Linked DNA regions of Homo sapiens: region 1 is linked to region 2. The links come from fine-mapping of genetic effects on gene expression. A gene starts in region 2. The other region holds a variant in brackets. All regions are shown on one strand. Distances are between the middles of the regions.

Region 1 (8,324 bases), 25 kb after region 2:
GTAGACGGCAAGTGATTCAGATGGGGGCGGGCGTGGTGTCCAAACAGATGTAGACCTCGTCAGTGGGCGTCCTGAAGGGGAAGTGAATGGGACCCTGGGGAAGGGGCAGATCCTCACAGTTGTAGACCATGGAAGGCAAGTGAGTCCTGACCCAGGGGAATGGGTAGGTTTGCATGCTGCCAGTGTAGACTGGTGGGGACTGTGGAGGGGTAAGTCAGTCAGACCCCAGGAGAGGAGGAGAGCAGGTTTGCCCGCGAGTGTATACCATGTGCAGGTGAGTGAGGCCCCATGTGCCCGGAAGGGGTGCCAGTGCTACAAGAGGTGGACCAGCTGCTCAACGCCGCAGGGGGTGGTGGAATGGCCGGGGATGGCAGAATGGCAGGCAGGGTGAACCTTCTTCGTGACCCTCTCCTCCTCCTCTCCAGAGCCATGAACACCAGCCAGGTGGAGGCGCTGGGGATCCAGATGCTGCCTGGCTACCGGGACCCCTACCACGGCCGGCCCCTCACCAAGGGTGAGCTGGGCTGCTTCCTGAGCCACTACAACATCTGGAAGGAGGTGTGTCCTGAGTGATGGGCGGGGCCAGAGTTATGACTCTAGATCTCATCGGAGATTTGGACGGGAAAGGGGTTGAAAGAGTTCCCCAAAGCCCCGGCTAGGCATCCAGCCTCAGCCATGGGACCCATGGCCTCTCTTTAGTGAATGATGCGCCACACCAGCTGTATCACCCCCAGGTGTACCTGCCATCCTTCCATTGCGCAAATGTGGAAACTGAGCCTGGGGGTAGGGGTGAGCCCTTTTGAGCAGCAGGTGGTGTCTGGGGCCTGGGACCTGTAAACAAATCCTCATTACTCCCAGCCTGGTCTCTGTGCTTGATGTTTAGTACTAGAAGTCATGGCCACAGAGCCACTTTAAACCAGCACCTGCCCAGTGCTGCTGGGGGCACTCACCAGCCCAGGCATCCTCATCCACCCTCAGAGGGAGAGGCTGTGATTGGAGGAGGGTGTCTGACTAGGCTTCGAACTTGGGCCATCAGGGCCGGGCATGGTGGCGCACACCTGTGGTCCCAACTATTTGGGAGGCTAAAGTGGGAGAGTGGCTTGAGCCCAGGAGTTAAGGCTGCAGTCAGCCAAGATCGTGCCACTGCACTGCAGACTGGACAGCAGAGCAAAACCGTGTCTCAGAAAAAAGAAAAATGGCTGGGCGTGGTGGCTCATGCCTGTAATCTCAGCACTTTGGGAGGCCGAGGCAGGCGGATCACCTTAGGTCAGGAGTTCAAGACCAGCCTGGCCAACATGGTGAAACCTAGACTCTACTAAAAATACAAAAATTATCTGGGTGTGGTGGTGGGCACCTGTAATCCCTCTACTTGGGAGACTGAGGCAGGAGAATCACTTGAACCCAGGAGGCAGAGGTTGCAGTGGGCTGAAATCATGCCATTGCACTCCAGCCTGGGCGACAAGAGTGACACTCCATCTCAAAAAAAGAAAAATAAAATCCGGGCGTAGTGGCACATGCCTGTAATCCCAGCTGCTCAGGAGGCTGAGGCAGAATTACTTGAACCTGGGAGGCGGAGGTTGCAGTTGAGATCGTTCCACTGCACTCCAGCCTGGGCGACAGGGCGAGACTCCGTCTCAAAAAAAAAAAAAAAGAAAAAGAAAAGAAAAACTTGTTATCGAATGTGAAGCCAAATGGGGGTGTGCGGCTGCAAGGCGGGAGGTGCATGAGGCGTGGGCATTTGAGGGGCTGGGAGGCCTTTCTCTTCTGAGATCCATTATGGACGGCAGAGGGCAGAGGTTTGGATGTCCAGATGTCCCTGGAGCTAGGAGAGGCAGGGAGATGCACTGGCTTCTCTACGGGTCTTTCAAACCTTCTCAAAGCAAAGCTCTGTGCTTTAGGGTCAGGCCTGGCCTTGGCCTCCCTGTGATGTGGCGGGGCTTCCTCCCTCAGGTGGTGGACCGGGGGCTGCAGAAATCGCTTGTGTTTGAGGATGACCTGCGTTTTGAGATCTTCTTCAAGAGACGTCTGATGAACCTCATGCGGGATGTGGAGCGGGAGGGCCTGGACTGGGACCTCATGTGAGTGGGGGTCTGAGGATGGGGTGAAGCTGGGGCCTGGGGCAAGGCCAGGACTTAGAGGTGGGGGTGGGGGCAGGGTGGAGCTGGGACCTGGGGATGGGTCATGGCTTAGAGGCGGGGCTTGAAGGTGGGGTGGAACTGGAGCCTAGGTACATGGCCAGGGCTTAGAGGTGGGGCTGGGAGGCGGAGTGGAGCTGAATCCTACGGGCGTGGCCACAGCGCTGCAGCTGAGCCTAGAGCCTGTATGTCTGGGTGTGGTCAGGGTGGCAGGCGTGGCCAACCCTTGGAAGCGTAGCAGGAGGGCTCACGTGGTTCCTGGGCCTGAAGGCACTGTCAGGGCTGTAGCCTATAGGGAAGGGCGTTGGAAGGATCACCCAGAACTCAAGGGACCTGGCCGGAAGCCTGCAGGCTTGGTCAAGGCTTAGAGACTTGACTGAGGCCTGTGGAGGTGGATGTGGCTAAAATTTGACCGGGCAGCCTGTGGGCGTGGCTGAAGAGCATGGGGGTGTGGTCAGAGCTGGAGGTGTGGCCGAAGAGTGTGGGGGCGTGGCCAGGGCGCCTGGTCTTAGACAAGCCCCTGGATGGGAGTGCCACCAACATGTTTCCAGCACTGGAGCCGTCCTTCTCTTCTGTAAGTGGGCTGGTTTGTCCTCTCCCTTCCTCCATCTCTTTTTTCCCTTCCATGTGCAGTGCCCTAATCTGCATTCTGGGAACACTGCCCCATGTGAATAGTAACTGCACCCCTCCATTCCTGACTGCCCCCCCATCAGGGCACCTCGCCCACCTCCACCCCCACTGTCCTCTGAACTCAGAGCAGCTTCAGCCTCAGAGAACGTCTGCGTGATCCTGCTCTCCCCAGCTCCAGATCCTCCATGGCTCCCTCACGCCCTTTGGAAAAACTCACTCTTCTCCCCCATGACCGCCAGACCCCTGGGCTCCTGCATTCACTCCATCCAGTCACAGAGCTCTGCAAACATGCTGAGCCTGCTCCCATCCCAGGACCTGACGGGGTAACTAGATCCCTGGCTTTCTGGGCAAGCTCCCTCCGGAGGGCGGGAGGAGAGTGACAGGCCCGATCTTGCACCCCAGCTATGTGGGCCGGAAGCGGATGCAGGTGGAGCACCCCGAGAAGGCTGTGCCTCGCGTGAGGAACCTGGTGGAGGCCGACTATTCCTACTGGACCCTGGCCTACGTGATCTCCCTGCAAGGCGCCCGCAAACTGCTGGCTGCTGAGCCGCTCTCCAAGATGCTGCCTGTGGACGAGTTCCTGCCCGTCATGTTCGACAAACACCCAGTGTGAGAGGGGCAGGCGGCTGCTGGGCTGGGGTTTCACGGTGGGTCTGTCCTGGGAGAATGGGGATGTGAGACTCACGGCCTCCGAGAAGATGTCTCTTCTTTTGCCTACTTCTCCCTCCGTTTGCCCCCTCGCAGATCTGTCTCCATTTGTATCCCCTGCACACTTACGTTTTAATCTGTCCCCGCTGACTTCTTCACCCCCAATTTTTCCTCCAGCTGTCCCGTCCCCTGAAGCCATTGCTGCCCCTCACTCCCCTCCTCCTCCCCCCAGGTCCGAGTACAAGGCCCACTTCTCCCTCCGCAACCTGCATGCCTTCTCTGTGGAGCCGCTGCTCATCTACCCCACACACTACACAGGAGACGATGGCTATGTGAGTGACACCGAGACCTCAGTCGTATGGAACAATGAGCACGTCAAGACCGACTGGGACCGCGCCAAGTCCCAGAAGATGCGGGAGCAGCAGGCACTGAGCCGTGAGGCCAAGAACTCGGACGTGCTCCAGTCCCCACTGGACAGTGCTGCCCGGGATGAACTCTGAGGGGTAGCAGCCAGAAAGCCAAAGCAGCCATCGGTGGCCCAGGCTCCACGTGCTTACTGAGGACATCAGGTCCACCTCTGGACCCCTTGGCAGGCCACAGAGGGCTCTCGTGTGGGGTGGTGTCCAGCCAGCTCTTGCTAAGCAATCACGTGCACACAGGCAGCATTAATGGAGTGCCTACTGCATGCCAGCAACAGGGCTTGGCCCTGGGGAATTGGGAGGAACCAAGCCCTCTTCATCTGTTCATGTGCCCAGCATTTATTAAGCACCTGCTGTATGCAAGGTTCCCATGTTACGGCAGTGAATGAGGCATAATTGTTCCCTCCATCAGCGATTGATTCAGTCATCAAGCAGTTACTGATCAGATTAAGAATCAGGCACTAGTGATACACATTCATTTTTAAAATTCATTCAAGGATTTATTGAGTGCCTACTGTGTGTTGGGTGCCATTCCAGGCTCTGGGATTTTTTTTTTTTTTTTTTTAAGAGTAGAGTCTGTCTCTGTCACCCAGGCTGGAGTGCAGTGGTGTGACGGCTCACTGCAGCCTGCGCCTCCCAGCGTCCAGCAATTCTTGTTTCTCGGCCTCCCAAGTAGCTGGGACTATAGGTGCGTGCCATCACATCTGGCTAGTTTTTGTATTTTTAGTAGAGACGGGGTTTCACCA[T/C]GTTGGCCAGGCTGGTCTCGAACTCCTGACCTCAAGTGATCTGCCCGCCTTGGCCACCCAAAGTGCTAGGGTTACAGGCATGAGCCACTGTGCCCAGCCCAGGCTCTGGGAATATTGAGATAAATAAGATGCTTCTATCCATTTATTCAAGCACATATTGGTCACCTACTGTGTGCCTGGCACTCATGTCACAAAGATAAGTTCCTGATTCGGTACACTTACTGAGCACCTGCTGTGTGCAGGGAGCTGAGCTATGGGATGGGAATGGGAGTAAACAAGGTACTTTTTACTTTTTTCTTTTTTTCCTCACTGCTAGACGGTGTGGGAACTTCTCACTCATTGGCTTCTTTCCCACACACCTGAAGAGCACTGACTGTGTGCCGGGCACTAGTGATACAAAAGAGTGTGACAGTTGTTCAGTCTGCATTTTCGATCATGGGCTACATGCCGAGTGCTGGGGCACAGAGATGAACAAGATCGGTTCCTTCACTTCTTCATGCCACAAGTGTTTATTGAGCACCTGTGTGCCAGGCCTCACAGACTCCCAGTTGGGTTGAAGAATGGTTGACTGAGTTTGATTCTTCCTGTACCCTCGGTCGTCTGAGCTGTGTGCAGACAACATCCCCCCACCACCCAAGAGGGAGGGTAGCTCTTCCGCCACCAGGGGCAAGCACAGGTCCTGGTGGCCCCACGCCACATGTTAGCCCCCCTGGAGGGGGCGCCAGTTGGAGACGGGGGCTGGGTGTCCCTGGCCCACTCCCGGTCCCCTGTGCTTTACCTCCTTGCCCTTGTGTCTCAGGTGTGGTCCCTGCCTGCTTGATGAAGTTGCTCTGTTCAAGCCTTTGGTGGGATCATGTGTTTGGGGGCTTTTAGGGGACCCAGCTGCACTGGGGCACTGCCCGTGGCCTGGGTAGGACATTTCCCAGCAAGGGCTGGAGGAGTTGCCGTGCCTTCAGCCTGAATCGAATGTCAGAACCAGCCAGCGGTGCTTCACCCTCTTGGGGATAACTTGCTTAGTTTTTTAATAAATGTTCCTGGTTGGTTTTCACAGCAGTTTGTGGGATTTTGCTCGGCACCAAAACACTGCCCACGTTCCCCACCCCTGGATGGCCGACAAGATTTGGGAGGAAACCAGGGCAGGTGCAGTAGGGAAGCTGCCCAGTGGGGCCTGGCATGGTGGCTCATGCCTGTAATCCCGGTGCTTTGGGAGGCTAAGGTGGGCGGATCACTTGAGGTCAGGAATTCAAGACCAGCCTGGCCAACATGGTGAAACCCCCTCTCTATTAAAAGTACAAAAATTAGCCTAGTGTAGTGGGGCGGGGTGGCGGGGGGGGGGTACCTGTAATCCTCGCTACTTGGGAGGCTGAGGCAGGAGAATCGCTTGAACCTGGGAGGTGGAGGTTGCAGTGACCCAAGATTGAGCCACTGCCCTCCAGCCTGGGCGGCAGAGCAAGACACAATCAAACCAAAAAAAAAAAAAAAAAGCTGGCCAGTGGAGCTACTGTGGGGTGAGGGTGTGGTAAGAGCCCTGTGTCCCCTCATGCCATAAAACTTCCCCCAAACAGGCGGGGGACCGACAGCTCTGTCTTGAGTCAACTTCAGGATCCTTCCACATGACTTCGAATAAAGAGGGGCTGTCGTGCTTTGAGTCCCCCTAAAACAGACCTCAACATGAGGATTAGGGCTGGGCATGGTGGTTCACGCCTGTAATCCCAGCACTTTGGGAGGCCAAGGTGGGTGGATCACCTGAGGTCAGGAGTTCGAGACCAGCCTGATCAATAAGATGAAATCCCGTCTCTACTAAAAATGCAAAAAGCAGCCAGGCATGGTGGTGTGTGACAGTAGTCCCAGCTACTTGGGAGGCTGAGGCAGGAGAATCGCTTGAACGCAGGAGGTGGAGGTTGCAGTGAGCTGAAATCTTGCCACTGCACTCCAGCCTGGGCAACAGAATGAGACTCCATCTCAAAAAAAAAAAAGGATTAGGCTGGGTGAGGTGGCTCACTCCTATAATCCCAATGCTTTGGGAGGTTGAGGAGGTGAGAGGATTGCTTGAGGTCAGGAGCTCAAGACCAGCTTGGGCAACAGAGTGAGACCCTCGTCTCTACAAAAAAAATTGAGAAATTAGTTGGGCATGGTAGGGCACACCTGTAATCTGGCTACTCAGGAGGCTGAAGCAGGAGTATCTCTTGAGTCTAGGAGGTTGAGGCTGCAGTGAACCATGATCACACCACTGCACTCCAGCCTGGGCAACAGAGCAAGACCCTGTTTCTATAAAACAAAACCAGAAAACTTCCCTGAAATAGCCCAGGGACAGGTGGCCAACTTCATTCTATCTTGGATCAACCACAGGATCGTCGCAGATGACTTCAAATGAGGAGGGGCTGTCATGGTTTGGGTCCCCTGAAACAGACTCCAAGATGAGGATTGAAGGGCACTTACGTTATCAGTGACCCCAGGAACTTGCTGTGGAGCAGTAGGGAAGTGAGACAAGAAGGGAAAGAGTGGTCCCACCCCAGGGAGAGGGGGCTGGACATTACAACATGCCCAGTTGCATTTGGATTTTCTGGGTCAAATGCTTACAAATCCTCTGGATTATTACACCTTTAGGGTGTGCAAGAATATACCCGAGACTTTTATAAACTAACACAGGGGCCAGGCGCGGTGGCTCACACCTGTAATCCCAGCACTTTGGGAGGCCGAGGCTGGTGGATCATGAGGTCAGGAGTTCGAGACCAGCCTGGCCAATATGGTGAAACCCCGTCTCTACTAAAAATACAGAAAAATTAGCTGGGCATGGTGGTGAGCGCCTGTAGTCCCAGCTACTTGGAGGCTGAGGCAGAAGAATCACTTGAACCTGGGAGGCGGAGGTTGTAGTGAGCCGAGATCACGCCACTGCACTCCAGCCTGGGCGACAGAGCAACACTCTTGTCTCAAAAAACAAAAAACAAACAACAACAAAAAACCCTAACACTGATGGTGTTCAATCAGTGTGGAAAAAATCAGAACTTACAGCTAAGCAAATTGACAAAGCAAAAATTAAATCACACCTTTTCAGACACAACTAACATTTTCAAAAACTTTCCAGCCTTCCTTATTTGCATGGTGTAAATATATATGCATTTTTTAAAAAAGGAGGACCATGTTACCTAAGCTACTGCAACTTGCCGTTTTATTTTTCGTGGAATGCACTTTTATTTTCTAAGCATGGGATCAAACTGTACCTATTTTTTAAAAAACAACTTTTATTTTTAAATTTAACAACTATTGTGGACCTCCTTTCCAAAATAGGGTTAACATCTACGAGCTCTTTTTGGATTGTTATGGAAAATATTCCCTGCTGTTTCCTGCAGTGGATAGCATTATACAATACATCTTTCCTACTGGATTTTTTGTTTTTTTGTGTTTTTTTGTTTGTTTTGTTTTGCTTTTTGAGACGGAGTCACACTCTGTCACCCAGGCTGGAGAGCAGTGATACGATCTTGACTCACTGCAACCTCCGCCTCCTGGGTTCAAGCAATTCTCCTGCCTCAGCCTCCTGAGTAATAGATTACAGGCGCCCGCACCACACCTGGAGAATTTTTGTATTTTTAGTAGAGATGGGGTTTCACCATGTTGGCCAGGCTGGTCTTGAACTCCTGACTACAAGTGATCCACCCGCCTTGGCTCCCAAAGTGCTGGGATTGCAGGCGTGAGCCACTGCACCTGGCTTCCTACTGGATTTTAAAATTTCAGTTGGGTAAATTGAG
Region 2 (8,324 bases):
CAAATCCTTTCTAAACACTAGGACTTTTCATGAAAAGAAAAAAGCTATGCCAGTTAGACACACACAGAAATCTCATGATTTTATTTTGAATTTCTTTGACTAAATTGAACTTACAAATAAGTTTATTATGGCCAGGCGTGGCAGTGCACACCTGTAATCCCAGCACTTTGGGAGGCTGAGGCGGGCAGATCACTTGAGCTCAGGAGTTCAAGACCAGCCTGGCGAACATAGTGAGACCTCATCTCTACAAAAAATACAAAATTAGCGGCCGGGAGTGGTGGCTCACGCCTGTCATCCCAGCACTTTGGGAGGCTGAGACAGGTGGATTGCTTGAGCCAAGGAGTTTTGAGGCCAGCTTGGGCAATGTGGTGAAACCTGTCTCTACTAAAAAATAAAATAAATAAATAAATAAATAAATAAATAAATAAATAAATAAAATTTAAAAGAAGCTGGGCTGAGATGGGAGATTTACCTGAGCCTGGGAACTCAAGGCTGCAGTGAGTGGTGATTGCACCACTGCACTCCAGCCTGGGTGATGGGAGTGAGACCCTGTCTCAAAAAACAAAATCCAAATATGTTGATTAGCCATTTACATGTTTGTAGTTTTTTTTTTTTTAATTTCAGTGAATTGCCTGTTCATAGCTTTTTTCTACTTTTCAGGAGTGTTTGCATTTTTCTTATTGATATCTAATAACTCTTTATATCTGAAGGATATGAACGCTTTGTGATACAGGTTACAGATTTTGGGGTTTTTTTCTCCGCTTGCTGTGAGCCTTTTGGGTTTGTTTCCTAGCTCCAAATCTTAACTTGGTGTCAAGTTTCCTGGCTGGGAGACAAGCTTTTACCGACTTCCTCTGCTTGCCAGCAAAGTCATCTGCTAACTGGATATTGGCAGCTTCTCTGCTGTCTTGCAGCTGCTTCCGGAGTGGGTTCCACAGGGATTCCCGTGTGTTCTTGGTTCAGCTTGCAGAGGGACTTTCACACTCCCTGGAGACCGTTTCCTCCCATTCTGTCTGGAGTTTTCGGCCTACCCCAAGACAATGAGATATTCCTGACCTTTCCACCTATTTCCCTCCAACCCCACCTTCCGAAATACATTTGCTCAATACATTTGCACTTCATAGGCTTCTTTAGCTGTCTTCCTTTTACCCCGGACGGGATGTAGATGTTAATTCTGGAACAATTGCAGCTACAAGAATTTGTCATCCTGCCCCTTTTGAGAAAAACATTGTTTGCCCTTGGGTCTAAATCCTTCCAGATGGGATGGGATGTATCTTGTCACCTCCTTTTTCTTACTTAATATGAAAAGACCTTTCCTCATCAAGTCCACAGAGTGTAAATTTGTTTTTACCTTTTTTTTTTTTTTTTTGAGACGGTGTCTCACTCTGTCACCCAGGCTGGAATGCAGTGGTGCGATTTTGGCTCACTGCAACCTCCACCTCCTGGGTTCAAGTGATTCTCCTGCCTCGGCCTCCGTAGTAGCTGGGATTACAGGCGAAGCGCCACCATGACCGGCTAATTTTTTGTGTTTTTAGAAGAGATGGGGGCTTCACCATATTGACCAAGCTGGTCTCGAACTCCTGACCTCAAGTGATCCGCCTGCCTCAGCCTCCCAAAATGCTGGGATTACAGGCGTGAGCCACTGCACCTGGCCTGTATCATTCTTAAAAATTAAGTTTTAGCGGGGCATGATGGCTCACTGGTAATCCCAGCAGTTTGGGAGGCTGAAGGGGGAGGATTACTTGAGACCAGGAGTTTGAGAACAGCCGGGGCAACATAGCGAGACTCCATCTCTACAAAAAATTTAAAAATTAGCTGGGCGTGGTTGAGTGCACTTGTAGTCCCAGCTACTTGGGAGGCTGAGGCAGGAGGATCAGTTGAGCCCAGGAGGTTGAGGCTGCAGTGAGCCATGATCATGTGATCATGCCACTGCACTCTAGCCTGAGCCACAGAGTAAGACCCTCTCTGTGAAAATAATAATAAGCTGGGCGCGGTGGCTCACGCCTGTAATCCCAGCACTTTGGGAGGCTGAGGTGGGCGGATCAGGAGGTCAGGAGTTCGAGACCAGCCTGGCCAATATGGTGAAACCCCATCTCTACTATAAACAAAAATTAGCCGGGCGTGGTGGCGCGTGCCTGTAGTCCCAGCTACTCAGGAGGCTGAAGCAGGAGAATCGCTTGAACCCGGGAGGCGGAGGTTGCAGTGAGCCGAGATCGCGCCACTGTACTCTAGCCGGGGCAATGGAGTGAGACGCTGTCTCAAAAAAAAAAAAAAAGAAAATAATAATAATAATAATAATAATGTTCAGATGTATTTTTTAAAGTTTTTATTGTTTTTAAAAATAGAGGCACGGTCTTGCTATGTTGCACCACTGCACTCCAGCCCGGGCAACAAAGCCAGACTCCGTCTCAAAAAAAAAAAAAAAAAAGTGTGATACTAAGTCAATCAATTTGAAAATGCGGCTCTAGAGTATTGGAAAACAATCCCTTGACAGCGTTTCCATGAAAACATGGCCCTTGTCTCTGGAAGAGCTTGTGCCCAGAACGGTCCATTATCATGCCCTGGCTCTATTTTCACGCCAACCCTATAGGGTCTCTATGATCTCATTTTATAGATGGACAGACTGAGGCTCACATATAGCAAGCCCAAGGCGGGGACTGAATGTGACGCCAGGTCTGTGGACGTCATGACCTTTATTCTCCACAACCCTCAATGACATCCCTGTGAGATCCAAAACCAGGATGGCAAAACCCACGTTGCAGCAGAGGAAACTGAGGCTAAGGTCTCTTGGGTCCCAAACCAGGTCCTAAGTAGCCAAGTCCGCCTGGTGGCACAGCCCGGGTTTTATACATGGGGAAATTGGGCGGCGCATCTGGCGGAGGTCTCAGTGGTAGGAGGCGCCTGGAGGAAGCGCGGGTTCCTAACCCTAACGCTACCCCTAACATCCCTTCCACGCGCTCCGAGCGCTATGTGCCTTTAAGATCGGTGCGGGGGCGGGGCGTCCTGGGTAGGGCTGCAGGTGACGTCACTCCGGGCCTTGGGACTCGGAGAGCGTCTGGAGGCGGGGCCTGGACTTCACGCCCGGCGCGCTCCTCCCCTTTAAGGCGCGCGGCCGGGCGGGGCCCCTATGACCCCTTTAAGGCGCGGCCAGAGTCCTCCCGCAGAAAAACGACTTAAAGGAGACGCGTGGCGCGATGGCGGCGGCCCCACGCGCGGGCCGGCGGCGCGGGCAGCCGCTCCTGGCGCTGCTGCTTCTGCTGCTGGCGCCACTGCCGCCGGGGGCCCCGCCGGGCGCCGACGCCTACTTCCCCGAGGAGCGCTGGAGCCCGGAGTCGCCCCTGCAGGCGCCGCGCGTGCTCATCGCGCTGTTGGCGCGAAACGCGGCCCACGCGTTGCCCACCACGCTGGGCGCACTCGAGCGGCTGCGGCACCCGCGGGAGCGCACGGCGCTATGGTGAGTCGAGCCCGCTGTCCCCATCAGGCGGGTCACGCGAGCCCCTGCTTGCTGTCCCCATAGGGGTGGGTCCACGCGAGCCCCTGCCCGCTGTCCTCTTCTGGGCGGGTCCGCGCGTGCTTCCTGCTCGCTACCCCCATCGGGACGGTTCTACGCATGCCCCTGCCCGCTGCCCCCATCGGGACGGGTCCACGCGTGCCCCCTGCCTGCTGTCCTCCCATGGGGCCAGACACAGCCCTCCCCACAACACAAGCGGGACCGAGTTCCTCCTGCTGGCTCCTTTGGGGTGGGCTGGGCACCGCTTCTGCCTGCTGGACCCTACTAGGGCAGCTCCGGCCTCACTAACTGGGGCTCTAACTCCCTCTGGGGCACGTACACCTCCAAAGGACGGAGCCCAGAGCCCCCACTGGGGCGTTGCCAGAGGCCACATCTAACAGCAAGCCTTTCTGTGCCGGCTGCTGCCCTTAAGCTTGAACTCAGCCTGGCTCCAGGCCCCAGTCAAACCCCTGCCCTCAGACCGGCGTGGGTGGAGTCCAGGACCAGATGGCCCAGGAGGAAGTGGATGCTTTCTTGGTAGGGAATGGGGCAGAGCTCTGAAGAAACCTTTGACTGGTGACTTCTCACTCCCTGCCTCAGTTTTCTCAAATGGAAAATGGGTCCGGGTGCAGTGGCTCACGCAGTAATCCTAGCAATTTGGGAGGCCAAGGTAAGCGGGTCACTTGAGCTCAGGAGTTCGACACCAGCCTTGCCAACATGGCAAAACCCCGTCTCTAGAAAAAAAATACAAAAATTAGCCAGGTGCGGTGGTGTGTGCCTGTAGTCCCAGCTATTCAGGAGGCTGACGCAGGAGAATCGCTTGAGCCCAGGAGTTCGAGGCTGCAGTGACCTATGATTGCACCACTGCACTCCAGCCTGGGCTACAGAGTAAGACCTGCCTCTAAAAAAAGAAAAAGAAAAGAAAATGAGCGTATTAATATAATTCTCTTTTTGGGTTTGTCTCTGAAGATTATCCAGTTAATGGATGTGGAGCCCTTGGGTCTGGCATGGGCTTGGCTCTCAGTGATTTTATTATCATGATTACTGTCATTGCTGGTGTTATTGTCAACTTAATTTATTGGGCAGAATTAGCTTTTGGCACTACGGTCAAACTAAACTCCCAAATGTCGCTTTTCCTTCCACCTGATTTCTCAGTCTGGATAATCCAAATACACAATTGGTACTTAACAAATGTTTGTTGAATGAATAATTGACTGCAGCCCACTGAAGTGGTGTGGCTCACAGGAGAAGATGAAGGCAGGGTAAGGGATTTATGAGATATACTTTGAGATATACTTTTTTTTTTCTCTCAGACGGAATCTTGCTCTGTCGCCCAGGCTGGAGTACAGTGACACGATCTCAGCTCATTGCAACCTCCGCCTCCGGGTTCAAGTGATTCTCCTGCCTCAGCCTCCCGAGTAGCTTGGGATTACAGGTGCGCACCACCATGCCTGGCTAATTTTTGTATTTTTAATAGAGTCAGGGTTTCACCATTGTGGCCAGGCTTGTGTTGATCTCCTGACCTCATGATCTGCCTGCCTCGGCCTCCCTAAGTGCTGGGATTACAGGCATGAGCCACAGCGCCCTGCTGAGATATACTTTTTTTTTTGATACAGGGTTTTACATCTGTCGCCCAGGCGGGAGTGCAGTGGTGCAATCCTAGCTCACTGCAACTTCCCCCTCCTGGGCTCAAGTGATTCTCCTGCCTCAGCTTCTTGAGTAACTGGGACTACAGGCGTATGCCACTGCGCCCAGCTAATTTTTGTATTTTTTCTAGAGATGGGGTTTTGCCCTATTGGCCAGGCTGGTCTCGAACTCCCGAGCTCAAGTGACCTGCCCACCTCGGCCTCCCAACATATTGGGATTACAGGCGTGAGCCATTGCACCCAGCTGGTTTCTGATATATACATTTCATTTTTTAATATTTTTTATTTATTTATTTTTTGAGACTGAGTCTCGCTCTCGTTGCTGAGGCTGGAGTGCAGTGGCACGATCTCGGCTCACTGCAACCTCCTCCTCCCAGGTTCAAGCGATTCTCCTGCCTCGGCCTCCTGAGTAGCTGGGATTACAGGTGCCCGCCACCACACCCAGCTAATTTTTTGTGTTTTTAGTAGAGATGGGATTTCACCATGTTGGCCAGGCTAGGCTCAAACTCCTGGCCTCAAGTGATTCACCCGCCTCGGCCTCCCAAAGTGCTGGAATTACAAGCGTGAGCCACCATGCCCGGCCTAATTTTTGTATTTTTAGTAGAGATGGGGTTTCGCCATGTTGGCCAGGCTGGTCTCAAACTCCTGACCTCAGGTGATACACCCGCCTCGGCCTCTCAAAGTGCTGGGATGACAGGCGTGAGCCACCGTGCCTGGCCTGATCTATACATTACAAAAATTGCCGTGTGCGGTGGCTCATTCCTGTCATCCCAGCACTTTGGGAGGCTGAGGCAGGTGGATCACCTGAGGTCAGGAGTTCGAGAGCAGCCTGGCCAACATGGCGAAACCCCATCTCTACTAAAAATGCAAAAATTAGCTGGGCATGGTGGTGGGCACCTGTAATCCCAGCTACTCGGGAGGCTGAGGCAGGAGAATTGCTTGGACCTGGTAGGCGGAGATTGCAGTGAACCAAGATTGTGCCACTGCACTCTAGCCTGGGTGACAGAGCAAGACTCTGTCTCAAAAGAAAAAAAAAATTAAGTGACACATATTTGTTAGTGAATGTGGTTTGCAAGATCTTAGATGCTCAGTAATAAAACAGCCAATCACTAATGGGTCTTTCCAAAATCAGCTTGTTTAATCCTTCCACTTCCCAGTAAACTGGGTCCTGTTCCCACCCCCATGTTACAGATGAGGAAACTGACATGGAAAGGGAGAAATGGGCCGGGCGCGGTGGCTCACGCTTGTTAAGTCCAGCACTTTGGGAGGCCAAGGTGGGCGGATCACGAGGTCAGGAGATCGAGACCAGCCTGGCCAACATGGTGAAACCCCGTCTCTACTAAAAATACAAAAAAATTAGCCGGGTGTGGTGGCGGGCGCCTGTAGTCCCAGCTACTTGGGAGGCTGAGACAGGAGAAGGCGTGAACCCGGGAGGCGGAGCTTGCAGTGAGCCGAGATCGCGCCACTGCACTCCAGCCTGGGCAACAGAGCGAGACTCTGTCTCAAAAAAAAACAAAGGAAAGGGAGAAGTGTCCTGTCCAGGGATACATAGCTGGTGGGAGGCCAGTTGGGGATGGTGGTCCTTGACTTGCCTCACTGCTGCCTGGTCCTGCCTCAGTCTCCCCAAGTACGCTGCCTGTCCCCTCTCCCTGCAGGGTGGCTACGGACCACAACATGGATAACACGTCAACTGTGCTGCGGGAGTGGCTGGTGGCCGTGAAGAGTTTGTACCATTCCGTGGAGTGGCGGCCAGCAGAGGAGCCCAGGTGAGCATCTTTCCCCTGCTCCTAGTCTGATTGGGCTTTGCCTCTGCTCACACACCCTCTATGGCTCCCCATTGCCCCAGAACAATTACAGGCCCTCAGTCCCTGCCTCCAGCCCAGCCAGGCAGCATTAAGCTACTCTGAGCCTCCCTCAGCTTTACAAATAGGCCATAATCCTCTTCTCAGACCTTTGCCCAAGCCGTTCCCTGTACCTAGAATTCTTTCACTCCCTTTTTCTTCTGGGGACGCCCACTGCTTTGTTCCCTGGCTCACTGACTCAGTCTTGGTCCCAGCACTGGCTTTGCTGTTTATCTACTCCCTAAAGCCCTGGGCAGCATGGACTCCCTGCCCCCACCCAGTTCCTTTCTGGGTTTTTGTTTTTTTTTTGAGACAGGGTCTCACTCCCTCACCCAGGCTGGAGTGCAGTGGAGTGAACACAGCTTACTGCAGCCTTTAACTCCTGGGCTCAAGCCATCCTCCCGCCTCAGCCTCCTGAGTAGCTGGGACTACAGGCACATGTAACCATGCCTAGCTAATGTTTTTGTATTTTTTGTAGAGATAGGGTCTCACTGTGTTGCCCAGGCTGGTCTCAAAGTGCTGGCCTCAAGCGATCCTCCCACCTCTGCCTCCCAAAGTGCTGGGATCGCAGGCGTGGGCCACTGCACTGGACCCCACTGAGCTTCCTTCCTTCCTTCCCTCCAGTGTGCCTCGGGCTTTCTTCCCTCCAGGCCTTTGCACAGGCTGTACCTCCGGCCAGGAACATTCTCCCCACTTCTCTTTCCTCGTCGTTTACTTTTTCCCATCCCTCAGATCAGCTTACACGTCCCCTCCTCCAGGAAGCTCTCTCTGAGTACCCCGAAGGCAGCTCAGGCCCTCGCTGGGCTTTGATAGTGCCTTGTGATGTCCACATCACAGCTGCCTCCCCATAGGTCCTACCCGGACGAGGAAGGCCCGAAACACTGGTCTGACTCACGCTACGAGCATGTCATGAAGTTGCGCCAGGCAGCCCTGAAATCAGCTCGAGACATGTGGGCTGATTACATCCTGGTAAGTTTCTCAGCCGGCCGGATATGGATCACAGGCAGGTCTGGGTATCCCCAGGGAAGGCGGAGCAGCAGGATGCCAGGACCATCCTTAATGTTGTTTTGCAGAAGGGTAAACTGAGGCTTAGAGAGGGGAGATGAGTTGCTTGAGGTGATATGGTTGGTCAGTGGAGGAGGAGCTGGGATTCATTTGATCCTCAGCACTAGGAATGAATGGGCTTTTCTGTCCCCAGTTGTCCCCTGTGTTTGGACACTTGGGTCAAGTCCATTTTTATTTTTTTATTTTTTTGAGACAGAGACTCACTCTGGTGCCCAGGCTGGAGTGAAGTGCCGCAATATCGGCTCACTGCAACCTCTGCCTCCTGGGTTCAAGCGATTCCCG

What was found.
Region 1: its variant is fine-mapped to the expression of COLGALT1 in whole blood (TOPMed, PIP above 0.99).

The regions. Positions count from the first base shown.
Region 1 is chr19:17,577,532-17,585,855 of GRCh38, forward strand. It overlaps COLGALT1 (collagen beta(1-O)galactosyltransferase 1), which reads left to right. Exons shown (of 12, transcript NM_024656.4): 9 at 426-558; 10 at 1,951-2,078; 11 at 3,168-3,374; 12 at 3,646-5,626. The coding sequence ends at 3,913. Among named protein-coding and RNA genes, the nearest start is that of COLGALT1, 26 kb to the left of the region's middle. RefSeq lists enhancers at 2,365-2,574, 2,409-2,703. The variant T/C (reference allele first, on the strand shown) is at 4,579.
Region 2 is chr19:17,552,520-17,560,843 of GRCh38, forward strand. COLGALT1 (collagen beta(1-O)galactosyltransferase 1) reads left to right here and starts at 3,130. Exons shown (of 12, transcript NM_024656.4): 1 at 3,130-3,454; 2 at 6,792-6,902; 3 at 7,829-7,946. The coding sequence starts at 3,195. NIBAN3 (niban apoptosis regulator 3) reads left to right here. Exons shown (of 15, transcript NM_001321827.2): 15 at 1-1,121. RefSeq lists a silencer at 3,208-3,297.